2 linked regions of the Homo sapiens genome follow. The protein of the gene in region 1 purifies or fractionates together with the protein of each later gene. This does not show direct contact. Each region holds a gene or a part of one and is shown on either strand. Other genes may lie near its edges. The genes, in order: BRAT1 and USP48.

Evidence for each region.
Region 2: the proteins of BRAT1 (region 1) and USP48 purify together in Homo sapiens (affinity purification with mass spectrometry; 2 studies listed by BioGRID, with this or other methods). This does not show direct contact.

What each region holds. Positions count from the first base shown.
Region 1 is NC_000007.14:2,538,436-2,545,716, reverse strand, and holds part of BRAT1 (integrator complex assembly factor BRAT1), read left to right. Parts: intron 1-660; coding exon 661-808; intron 809-1,754; coding exon 1,755-2,127; intron 2,128-2,393; coding exon 2,394-2,513; intron 2,514-3,505; coding exon 3,506-3,597; intron 3,598-3,880; coding exon 3,881-3,999; intron 4,000-4,232; coding exon 4,233-4,419; intron 4,420-4,664; coding exon 4,665-4,738; intron 4,739-4,822; coding exon of another isoform or gene 4,823-4,946; intron 4,947-5,809; coding exon of another isoform or gene 5,810-5,828; coding exon 5,829-5,931; intron 5,932-6,074; coding exon 6,075-6,173; intron 6,174-6,365; coding exon 6,366-6,538; intron 6,539-6,772; coding exon of another isoform or gene 6,773-6,952; coding exon 6,953-7,281. UniProt on the Homo sapiens protein: Component of a multiprotein complex required for the assembly of the RNA endonuclease module of the integrator complex.
Region 2 is NC_000001.11:21,677,672-21,682,304, reverse strand, and holds the end of USP48 (ubiquitin carboxyl-terminal hydrolase 48), read left to right. Parts: intron 1-1,470; coding exon 1,471-1,497; intron 1,498-2,865; coding exon 2,866-2,888; 3' UTR 2,889-4,007; downstream 4,008-4,633.

The sequences.
Region 1 (7,281 bases):
GGAGTTCGAGACCAGGCTAACCAACATGGTAAAGCCCTGTCTCTACTAAAAATGAAAAAATTAGCTGGGTGTGGTGGTGGGCACCTGTAATGCCAGCTACTCAGGAGGCTGAGACAGGAAAATAGCTTGAGCCCAGGAGGCAGAGGTTGCAGTGAGCCGAGATGTGCCACTGCACTCCAGCCTAGGCAACAGAGTGGGACTGTCTCAAAAAAAAAAAAAAGAAGAAGAAAGTGTCCTCCAGAAGTATCTCCACCAGCCCTGGAAAACTGAAAACCCATCTCTGCTTTGCTCCACATCCCTGGAAACCTACCAGGTCCCCTCACCTCTTTTTTTTTTTTTTTTTTTTTTTTTTTGAGATGGAGTCTCGCTGTGTCACCCAGGCTGGTGTGCAGTGGTGCGATCTTGGCTCACTGCAACCTTCGCCTCCCGGGTTCAAGCAATTCTCCTGCCTCAGCCTTCTTAGTAGCTGGGATTACAGGTGCATGCCACCACACCCAGCAAATTTTTGTATTTCTAGTAGAGATGGGGTTTCACCATGTTGGTCAGGCTGGTCTCGAACTCCTGACCTCGTGATCTGCCCTCCTCGGCCTCCCAAAGTGCTGGGATTACAGGCTTCAGCCACTGCGCCTGGCCACCCTCACTTCTTTTTTTGCTTCCCAGCAGGGGGAGTTACTACCAGGGCTCTTTGGGGAGCCAGGACCCCTCGGCCGAGCAACCTGGGCCGTCCCCACCGTGCGCAGCGGCTGGATCCAGGGCCTGCGCTCCCTGGCACAGCACCCCAGCGCCCTGCGCTTCCTGGCCGACCATGGTGAGTGCGCCCACACCCCACCCCATTCCTCATCCTGCCTGTGTGATCCCAGGGAATTCACTGCACCTTGCTGAATCTGAGTGTCTGGTCTGTGCGATGTCTCAGGGTTGTTGCAAAGACTGCACTGTGACAGTACGGCTGTCCAGTGTTCTCTGGTTGGCAGGTCAGGCCCTAGGAGCCAGGACGGCTTTCTCAGCCACTTACAGATCAGCCGTGAGGACTCAGTCTTTGAAACTATTTGGGAGCCAGGCGTGGTGATGCGTGGCTATAGTCCCAGCTACTCGGGAGGCTGAAGCAAGAGGATCACTTGAGCCCAGGGGTTCGAGGCTACAGTGAGCAGTGGTTGAGCCACTGCACTCCAACTTAGGCAACAGAGCAAGACCCCGTCTCAAAAAAACAAGAAACGAGGCTGGGCACGGTGGCTCACGCCTGTAATCTCAGCACTTTGGGAGGCCGAGGCGGGTGGATCACCTGAGGTCAGGAGTTCAAGACCAGCCTGGCCAACATGGTGAAACCCTGTCTCTACGAGAATACAAAAATTAGCCGGGCATGATGGCGGGTGCCTGTAATCCCAGCTACTTGGGAGGCTGAGGTGGCAGAATGGCTTGAACCTGGGAGGTGGAAGTTGCAGTGAACTGAGATCGCACCATTGTACTCCACCCTGGGCAACAGAACAAGACTCTGTCTCAAAAAAAAAAAAAAAAAAAACAACAAGAAGGAACGAATTGGGAAGCATCACAAGCTGTGTGTGTTTAACGCTCGGGGGGAGGAGGTGCTTGTCTCCAGGGAGCTTCAGTTCCTGTTCTTTTTTGCTTTTGAGTGGAGAGGCATTTGGGGGCATCTTGGGGGGCCCTCTGCTATTTGTATCTTCCCTGAGGCCCTCTGCCTCCCCCAGCTCTATTCTGGCTCACCCCCTTTTCCCTCTCTTCCCCCATCCCCTACCCAGGTGCGGTCGACACCATCTTCTCCCTGCAGGGAGACTCCAGCCTGTTTGTGGCCTCGGCGGCCAGTCAGCTCCTGGTGCACGTCCTGGCTTTGTCCATGCGAGGTGGAGCCGAGGGGCAGCCCTGCCTGCCGGGGGGTGACTGGCCCGCGTGTGCCCAGAAGATCATGGATCACGTTGAAGAGTCCTTGTGCTCCGCGGCCACCCCCAAGGTCACTCAGGCCCTGAACGTCCTGACCACGACCTTCGGGCGCTGCCAGAGCCCCTGGACGGAAGCCCTGTGGGTGCGGCTGAGTCCCCGCGTGGCCTGTCTGCTGGAGAGAGACCCCATCCCCGCCGCACACTCGTTCGTGGACCTGCTTCTCTGTGTGGCTCGGTCAGGGCCCCGGGACGCAGCTGGGGGGCCTGGGTGGGCAACTGTTTTCCTCGGATAACGCCCAGGGATGTCCCACTGGCAGCCGGAGACTCTCTGAGGACATGGCCTGCAGTGAAGCGGCACCGGGGTGACCCTGGAACCCTCATGGGGAAAGGCCTGTCTTGGGCTGGGCGCCTCCAGTGCCGGAGCCATGGCAGTCTCAGCCAGGCCTCGAATGGGGTTTTGAGGGTGGGGGAGTAATTTTTCTCTCTGGGGTCTCCCTGCAGTTCTCCCGTGTTCAGTTCTTCCGACGGCAGCCTGTGGGAGACAGTGGCGCGGGCTCTGAGCTGCCTGGGTCCCACCCACATGGGACCCCTGGCTTTGGGGATCCTGAAGCTCGAGCACTGGTATGGTCTGGGGTGCATTTCATTCCGAGGCGGGTGCTGGGAGCTGGGGCAGGCAGGGAGGTTGAGAGCGCAGCCCTCATGGCAGGGGAGTTCCGGACACCAGGGACAGTCAGGCGGCCGTGCGGGGTGTGACTGGGTGGTGCGTGGGTTGCGCGCGGCAGCTTCTGAAGGTTCTTTAGCAACAGAATAATTGTTTCAGACCAAAGCTCTGCGAGATCCCCAGAGGTGAGAAGGATGCGGGAGCTGCTCTGCTCAGAGCAGGGTGGTCCTGCCGACGCCCTGCGCTCCGCTGCCCTCCCACCTGTCCCCCACCGCAGCTTTGGTTGGGGGTTTCGGAGCTCCCCAGCACACACACCATGCGGGTGGGGGGCCTGGGGGCGGTGCAACGGCAGAGCCTGGGGTCAGGACAGGTGGGAAGGCCGTGGATGGCCTGCCAGTGTTCCAGGTGGGCTCACAATAGGGGTGGAAGTGACCTCAGGACCTGCTGCCCACAGGGCCCAGGGGTACCATGAGGGTCCAGCTCTGAGCTCCGGGGTCTCCGAATGTTTAGGAGAGAGTAGACCGGGGGAGGATGGAGGAACAGGCCCGGCCCTGCAGGAATGCATTGTGGGGACACTGCCTCCACCTAGGCCCAGACGTGAGGGCAGGTCCCTCCCACAGAGTGGACGCTGTACACACCTGGGGGCACCCCATCCCTGTCCCCCTGAGCGGGCACTGCCCCTCTCTCTGGGTGCATGGCCAGGCCCTCCTGGAGGCCCCTCAGTATCTGCTCCTAAGGACATCAGGAGTGTCAGGCCCATCTCCTTGGTCAGGCCTGTCCTCCCCGCCACTCTGTCCCATGGCATCCCCTGGCCAGTGGCCTGCAGAGAATGTTTCTCGGGGGGTGTCCCAACCCCCTGGCTGATTTGCCCCAGGCTTGCTGGGGACATTAGGAGCACAGCCAACTTGTCTCGCAGCCAGGGTCGCGGCACTCACCTCGCGTTTGTCTCCAGTCCACAGGCACTGAGGACCCAGGCCTTCCAGGTCCTTCTCCAGCCCCTGGCCTGTGTCCTGAAGGCCACGGTTCAGGCCCCCGGACCCCCAGGTGTGCTGCTTAGAAAGGGCTGGGAGGGCAGAACCTGGGTCCCTGCGGCTGGGGGAAGGGAGATGGATGAGAGTAGCTGGCTCGCCACCCCCGCCCCACTTTAATCACACCCAGGCCTCCCTCCAAGAGCAAAGGGGACCGGGGACATGGCCATCTCCCCTGGTGAGCTGCTGCTCTGCACCTAGGTCCTGGCCTGTGCTGTGGGTGGTGACCGTGGGGTGGCTGGTGACCGTGGGGAGGCTGAAGTGCTCTCTAAGGGAGCTCTTCCTGGCTTGGCCCCCAGGCTTGCTGGACGGGACGGCAGACGATGCCACGACGGTGGACACACTCCTGGCCTCCAAGTCGTCCTGCGCCGGCCTCCTGTGCCGCACCCTGGCTCACCTGGAGGAGCTGCAGCCGCTGGTAGGTGCGGCCCGGTCCTCATGCAGCCCAGCAGCATCCACGCTGGCGGTGGGACCGCAACGTAGGCTGACGCCCCCCACCCCTTGCTGCCCCAGCACCCTTGCATCCACGCCAGCAGTGGGACCACAACCTTGGCTGATGTCCCCCGCCCCACATGCCTCGAAGTCCCAGCACCCCTGCATCCACGCCGGCAGTGGGACCGCAACCTTGGCTGACGGCCCTCTTCCTCGCAGCCCCAGCGCCCTTCACCGTGGCCCCAGGCGTCTCTACTGGGGGCTACAGTGACTGTCCTGCGGCTCTGTGACGGCTCGGCTGCCCCTGCCTCCAGTGTGGGGGGCCACCTCTGTGGGACCCTGGCGGGCTGCGTCCGGGTCCAGCGAGCAGCCCTCGACTTCCTGGGGACGCTGTCACAGGGGACAGGTGAGTGTGTTCTGTACGGCTTTGGCGTGGGGCTATCCCTGTGCCCCCACTCTCCTTTCTGCTCGGAGGCACCCGGGAACTGCTGTCCCTCTCTGTTTCTTCTCTGGGGTGGGGGCTGAGGGGTGCAGGGGCCGTGCAGGAGGTTTCAGCTGGCGGATGAGGCCTTGTTCTGCTCCTTCCCAGAGTTGATGGGGAGGGTCCTAGGGTGGGGGTGGGGGTGGTTTATCCACTCACCTCTGTCTCAGGCCCCCAGGAGCTGGTGACGCAGGCGCTTGCTGTCCTCCTGGAGTGCCTCGAGAGCCCCGGCTCCAGCCCCACGGTACGGTGGTGGGGATAGAGAGCGAGGAGAGGAGGGAGGCAGAGGCAGTGGGACCCACCCCTGACTCCACCCCGTCCCGTGCAGGCCTCTGCGGATGGGGCCTTCACACAGGGCCACAGAGCTGCTGCTCAGAGAGCTTCACGATGCAGGTGGCTGCATGGGGCGGGCCCAGGGCCTCTTGTTGGTGAAGATACATCAGCACGCAGGGGTGTGTGGGGCCGTGGGGAGCAGGGGCACTGGTCAGGCGGCCTGCGGGGAATTCTGGACAAGGGAAATGAGGTGGCACCAAGACGGCCCTGGGCGTGGGCTTTGGGTTCTCCTAAGCGCCATTTGTGAATGTGCCTACTCCACAGCCCCTCACGGAGCTGGGCCCTGGCAGGTACAGACCTTGTGCCACCTGCCGCTGAGCAGACAGCAGACAACTTTGGAGGAAGGGCCCAGGGCTTCTTGGGATCCTAAGGAAAAGGTGCCCTGCGTAATTGGTCATGTTTTGATGTAGAAATCCCGTTGCCTGGGTTGTGGGTCTTCTGGTGAGGGCTGCCACCACCTCCTCCTGCTCACAGTCTGGGAAGCCGGTTCTGCAGCATATTCTGCCCTATTAAAATCAGCCCAGGAGGGGCGTGGGGCTCACAGCTGTGATTACTGTGCGTTGGGGGGCCGAGGTGGGGGGATCAATGGAGCCCAGGACTTTTGAGGCCAGCCTGGGCAACATAGCAAGATCCCATCTCTACAAAAAAATAGAAAAATTAGCCCCAGGAGTATAGCTCAGGGGTAGAGCATTTGACTGCAAAAATTAGCCAGGCGTGGTGATGTGTGCCTCTAGCCCCAGCTACTCATGAGGCTGAGGCAGGAGGACTGTTTGAGCCTGGGAGGTGGAGGCTGCAGTGAACTGTGATTGCAGTCCAGCCTGGATGACACATTGAGACCCTGTCTCTAAAAAAGAAGGAAGCCCAGCGTTCCCTTCTCTCTCCACTTCCTGTCCCCATTGCTGTCCCTGGAGTACGGGCAGCACAGGTGAAGGCGAGGGGGACAGACAGACAGCCTGCCCCTCCGTCTCCCGTGGCCCTGCAGCCCACCCTATCTGCTCCAGGTTCTGAAGAAGGCCTTCCAGGCCACGCTCAGGTGGCTCCTGAGCTCACCCAAGACCCCCGGCTGCTCTGATCTCGGCCCCCTCATCCCGCAGTTCCTCAGAGGTAACGCAGCCCCTTGCAGGGGTGAACGGAGCTGGAGTCGCAGGGGTGGAGGCAGCAGGGGCTGGGTGGAATGGCTCAGCTGGCTCTGAGGGCAGGGTGAGCCTGGCCCCAAGGTCACCCTGACCTGTCCCTTCCCACCCTAGAGCTGTTCCCTGTGCTGCAGAAACGCCTGTGCCACCCCTGCTGGGAGGTGAGGGACTCCGCCCTCGAGTTCCTGACCCAGCTGAGCAGGCACTGGGGAGGTGAGTGCTGGCAGGTGGAGGGGCTGCCTTCCCCGCCTGTGGGGGGCTCACTGAGCCAGGGTGCACCAGCAGCCTCTTGCTGGCTCTAGAAACTTGGGCCATGTCGGCTGCCCACAAGGGGATGGAGGCAGAGGCCGAGGCGACAAGGCTCGGCCCTCAGTCACAGCTGCATGTGGCCGTTTCGACCCCCAGGACAGGCTGACTTCAGATGCGCACTCTTGGCTTCAGAGGTGCCTCAGCTGGCCCTGCAGCTCCTCCAGGACCCTGAGAGTTATGTCCGAGCGAGTGCAGTGACCGCCATGGGGCAGCTGTCCAGCCAGGGCCTGCACGCCCCCACCAGCCCTGAGCATGCAGAGGCCCGGCAGGTAGGAGGTGGCAGGTTCCTCAGCCAGCAACTCCCGCCTGGCCATCGTGTGTGCTCGTTTGCTTGCGGGTGGTCGAGCGGCCAGCATGCAGCGTGGGAGCAGCTGCTGCTGTGGGCAGCGCCTGCAGCAGTGACTGCCGAGGCCCTGGGGCTGTGCTGGGTGTGGGACCTGTGCGCTTCGCCTTCTGTCTCCCCAGCACCCCTCCACTTAGACATGGTTACCTCCATTTGACAGATGGGTAAACTGAGGATTGGAGGGCCGTGTGCTCACTGCGCAGCATGGGAAGGTGTCAGAGCGGGCTGTGGCCCTAGACTGCATGTCCGGGGCCAGCCCCCATCATGTACCGGAGTCCTGTTGCGGGAGCCTCGCTCCTGCCACCCCACCAACCATCCGCACTTGCTCCCTGTCCCCCAGAGCCTGTTCCTGGAGCTCCTGCACATCCTCTCCGTAGACTCGGAGGGCTTCCCACGGCGGGCGGTCATGCAAGTCTTCACTGAGTGGCTGCGGGACGGCCACGCCGACGCGGCCCAGGACACGGAGCAGTTCGTGGCCACTGTGCTGCAGGCGGCGAGCCGAGACCTGGACTGGGAGGTCCGCGCCCAGGGCCTGGAGCTGGCCCTCGTGTTCCTGGGCCAGACTTTGGGGCCGCCGCGTACCCACTGCCCCTATGCCGTGGCCCTACCCGAGGTGGCCCCAGCCCAGCCACTCACCGAGGCACTGAGGGCTCTCTGCCACGTGGGGCT
Region 2 (4,633 bases), on another chromosome or scaffold:
GAAGTAGGAGGGAAAGCCAGTCAAATTCACAGGATGAAGTCAGGAAGATAATAGAGCAGTGCCCGCAAGATCCTGAGGGAAAGCAAGTTCCAATCTATAAGTCTGTAACCCTCACACCTGATGGCCCCTTGAACATATTCAGGGCTTCAAAAGATTGATCTGTCATGCACCGTCTGCCATGATACTGTGTGAGGATGTGTTCTTCTTCTTAAACATTAAATCAAGAAAGAATCAACAGTGGACCCAGTAAATAGCAGATCAGCCTAGGATAAGATGCCCTAGAAGATGGTGAAGGGAAGTCTCAGAACTACTGTTCTTCAGCAGGCAGCGAAGACACCTGATCCATATTGGAGTGGTGGGATGCGAGCTTCAGGAAGGGATGCCACAAGGAAAAGTGGAAGGGATGATGACTGTCTTCAAGAGGTTACAGGTCTTTAAGAATTTACACGTGAATTGGAGATAAATACAGAGAAAATGAAACACATCAGTAATTCAGTAGTTACCAAGCCCAGAAAGACCAAGTCATACCATGTAGTAAATATAACCAAGGTGCACCAAGGCATTCAACTGTGACTAGTATTAATGGCGTAAAAAGTAATGCCAGCGCTGGAGACTGGCTTAACAACAACAAACACCACTTCATCAGGAGGATGGGTCGGGGCAGGTGCTATGTAAGTGGTAAAACAGCTGTTTGTATCCTTCACTGAAGAATTTATTAGATTTTTATCTAAAATTATGAAGTAGGCCAGGCACGATGGCCCACTCCTGTAATCCCATCACTTTGGGAGGCTGTGGCGGGCGGATCACTTGAGGTCAAGAGTTCGAGACGAGCCTGGCCAACGTGGTGAAACCCTGTCTCTACTACAAATACAAAAATTAGCCAAGTGTGGTGGTGGGTGCCTGTAATCCCAGCTACTTGGGAAGCTGAGGCAGGAGAATTGCTTGAACCCAGGAAGCAGAGGTTGCAGTGAGCCGAGATCATGCCACTGCACTCCATTCTGGGTGACAGAGCTGGACACCCTCTCAAAAAAAAAAAGTAAATAAAATTATGAAAAGCATGTTATTTAGAAATAGGCTAAATACCAGAAGAAGCTGCTGTGTGAGTCAAAAGTGACTCCTTCCAGAACTTGGGAATGGGAGGAGGAAGGGGAGAGAGACAGCTCCAGAGGAGTCAGTTACATGGCTTCCTCCCAGGCCACTCCTAGAGTCGTGCACTAGGTGTGCCCTAGTTACAAACCTTGTCCTGTCAGTATTTGACTTTTTAAATGATGCATACGTATTGCTTTGATAAAAACAGAAACAAAGATTGTTCTGAAATTAGTAACATCCGTAACTTCAAAGATGATTATTACAGGTGACAAAGGTAATCAAAAGTTATTTTAAACTTTTGTCTTTAAGCATTGAAATGATATTACTGTCTGTCACGACAATCTTTTCAATTTGGAATTCTTCTTTTTTTCTTTTTTTCAGTTTGTATGCCAGAAGAAGGGTTTAAAGGTAAGTTACATTTGTCATGTTTTGTTCATGAATGTCAGAGTCATCCTGTAATTTTCTGTTAAAGCGAAGGCTATAATTTGATTTTAAATTTTAATCCAATCTGAGTCTCATGACTGAAATTAATTTTAGTTAAATGCATTTCTTACTCAAGCTTCTTCATTATCTTTTTCAACACTCAGGCCTCAAATGGGGCCTCAGCTGGGGCTTTTGTGTTAGAACTGTTTCTTGCCAGATGTCCATTTGGCCTTCCCTTTCTCATTTTATGGGAGGTTGGGAAATTAGCTAGTGGCATTTCAAGATTTATTTTTAACCTTTTCCCAGTTCTTCCTATCAAGTCCCCTCCTAGAGCAAAACAGTGTGTAACTATTAAGAATTAGTGGCACAAGAATTTGTCAGGTTTTATCAAGTCCAGTGAAAAGATTTAATTAATCACTTAGCATTAAGGCATTTGTTGGATTATTACTTCAAGAGGAGACACGGTGGTGCTCGTACTACATCTGGGCCATGTAGTTGTGCACACCGATAATATTCAAGAAGTCATCAAATACAGACCTCTGACGTTTTCGGATTTTCCTGTTGCTGTCTTGATTCTTTGCTGGCCACTCCAGAAGCCCCTGGCAGGTTGTGATTTTCTAAGGAATGACTTTGAATCACATACCAGCTATTCCTTGCTAAAGCAAATGAGAGACAAATCTACTGGCCAAAATAAAGTCTTCCTCTTGCTGCAGCTGTGTTGTCTGCATGCTACCATTACAAAGGGACTCCTGATGGGGTCAAAACAAAGCAAAAAACGTCTTTATGAAAAATGGTCATTGGCCGGGCATGGTGGCTCACGCCTGTAATCCCAGCACTTTTGGAGGTTGAGACGGGTGGGTCACTTGAGGTCAGGAGTTCGAGACCAGTCTGGCCAACATGGTGAAACCCCATCTCTACTAAAAATACAAAAATTAGCCGGGCATGGTGGCGTGCGCCTGTAATCTCAGCTACTTGGGAGGCTGAGGCAGGAGAATGCTTGAACCTGGGAGATAAGGTTGCAGTGAGCCAGGATTGCACCACTGCACTCCAGCCTGGGCGACAAGAGTGAAACTCTCAGAAAAGAAGAATGGTCATTAAATGAAAGAATCAATAAAATCTGGTTAGTTTGTGTGAAGATACACTTAGGAAGCACATGGCTTTCAACAAAAATGTGATTTAGCGGAGAGCCTGGAGTCTGCTGGTATTTTGTCTTATCCTCCCACACCAAGGTGCGACTGTGTTCATTTATTAAATTTGATGCTCCCTGTTGATGATGTGTTCTTGGTAAATGGAATCCATGAACTTTTAATCTGTAGTTCACAACTATCCCTCCACGTGTGTTTCTTTTCCCAGGTACTGGTCTTCTTGGACATTAATCTTTGAATACTTGCTGACTGCTAAGAAATGACCAGAGGGGAAGAGGAGTTTGACATGTTAGGGCATTAAAGCAAAGGTGGATTTAAGAATTAAACCATTACATGCCCCTTCCAAAAGGCAGAAATCCATTCAAACGTGACTGTCCCAAATGCCTTATGTCAAATAAAGCAGATTGCACTGATGGACATCAGACTTGAAGGAAATGTTTCCAATTTTATATTTAAGGGGGGTGGTGGGTGGGAGGGGGCAAGTAAAGACGGAACAAGTTTAGTAGCAGTAATAGTAAATCATGTTTACATATGAGATTTATAGTCGTGGGAGGGGAATAAAGTTCTGTTATATTTCCTTGCTCGAGTTTCATACCAGATGCGTTGGTCCATAAAGGATTGTATCAAGTAGATGGGACAACATTCTGCTCTGAACGAAAAGTAATTTTAGAGACATAACCTGCTTACCAATGCCTGTCTTTGATTCATATTCTACTTTCAATAAAGCATGAAAGTGAAGAACTTGTCCTAAGTGTGGAAAAGTGTCTTCAGATTTAGACTCTTCTCCATGTCAGCTGCAGCGCCACCCGCCTTACACCTGCCCGGCCGTCTGTCTCTTGGTATTGGGTAAAGGAGGGGGCACCTGCATGTCTCCTGCAATGAGCAAGGAATTATGTCTCATGTTTTGACTTCAGAGGCTTTTTGCTTTGGTGCATTTCAGAAAGGATGGAGAACATTTATTATGTGTGAAAGCATCCTCTTCCGGTTTTGCTGTTATTCAAAAGTGGGAAATGTACCTGGCACGTTTGAAAATAAAAAATCTGACTACCTATCAGAAGAGTAAATCAGACTGAAGTACATTTGGATAACACAAGGTTTCTATAAAATTTGTTCTTCCTGTCCTCCATGTCACTGTTTCTTGGACCTCAGTTCTCTTTTTGAAAGCATTATTCCAAAATGCCCTGAGAGGGTCTCTTAGATCATTGTTTAAAAAAGGAAAAAAGTATATGGATGTGCTGTCCATCCAACTCAGGATTATCATTCTTAGCAACACGTAACCGAAGCAATATTCTTAAGAATATTGAAGGGGTTTTTTTAATTGAACTTAAGACTGGAGTTTTTCCTTTGAAAAAAAAAAAAAAGTTTTCTCTGTTGAGTCCGTCTGTGTAAGTTTGTGGCTGAGATGCTAGCTTAGGCATCTCTCTTGTTAACACTTTTCTTGGCCTTGGGTTTGTGCAAGGCTTTTTCCCCCTTTCATGAAAATGTGAACTCAGATCATGGATGGGGAAGGCAGATTTTGATTTGAGACCCGATAACCTTGGCAGCATCCCTTTTGAATAGCTCCTTTTGTCAGAGTAATTACGGCCATTTGGTAAAATTCTAACTTCGTGTTTGTGTTTCCCCTCTGTGTTTCTAATGTCTTCAGTCTGTGTCCCCTGAGGAGGCAGGGGGTCTCTAATGAGCCTATCTATGGGGGAAGGTGAGAGCTGCACACAGCCCCCTGAGAAACCATCCTAGGAGTGGAACCAAGGGACCAACTGTTCTGGCCTTGAGGTTGGCACAGGGGAAGGACTTGAAGTTGAGCTGATGGATCCTGATTTTTAGATCTCATTGTTTTATTAGCTCCAAAGAAATGAATGCAGGAGCCTAAAACTAATAACACAAACTTCTTCTTTCCCAAGGTAAAGACTTTTATAAAAGTTCGCACAATGCTTGATTGAAGCCACTTCCTTTTCCTTACAAAGAAGCTTGTTGGC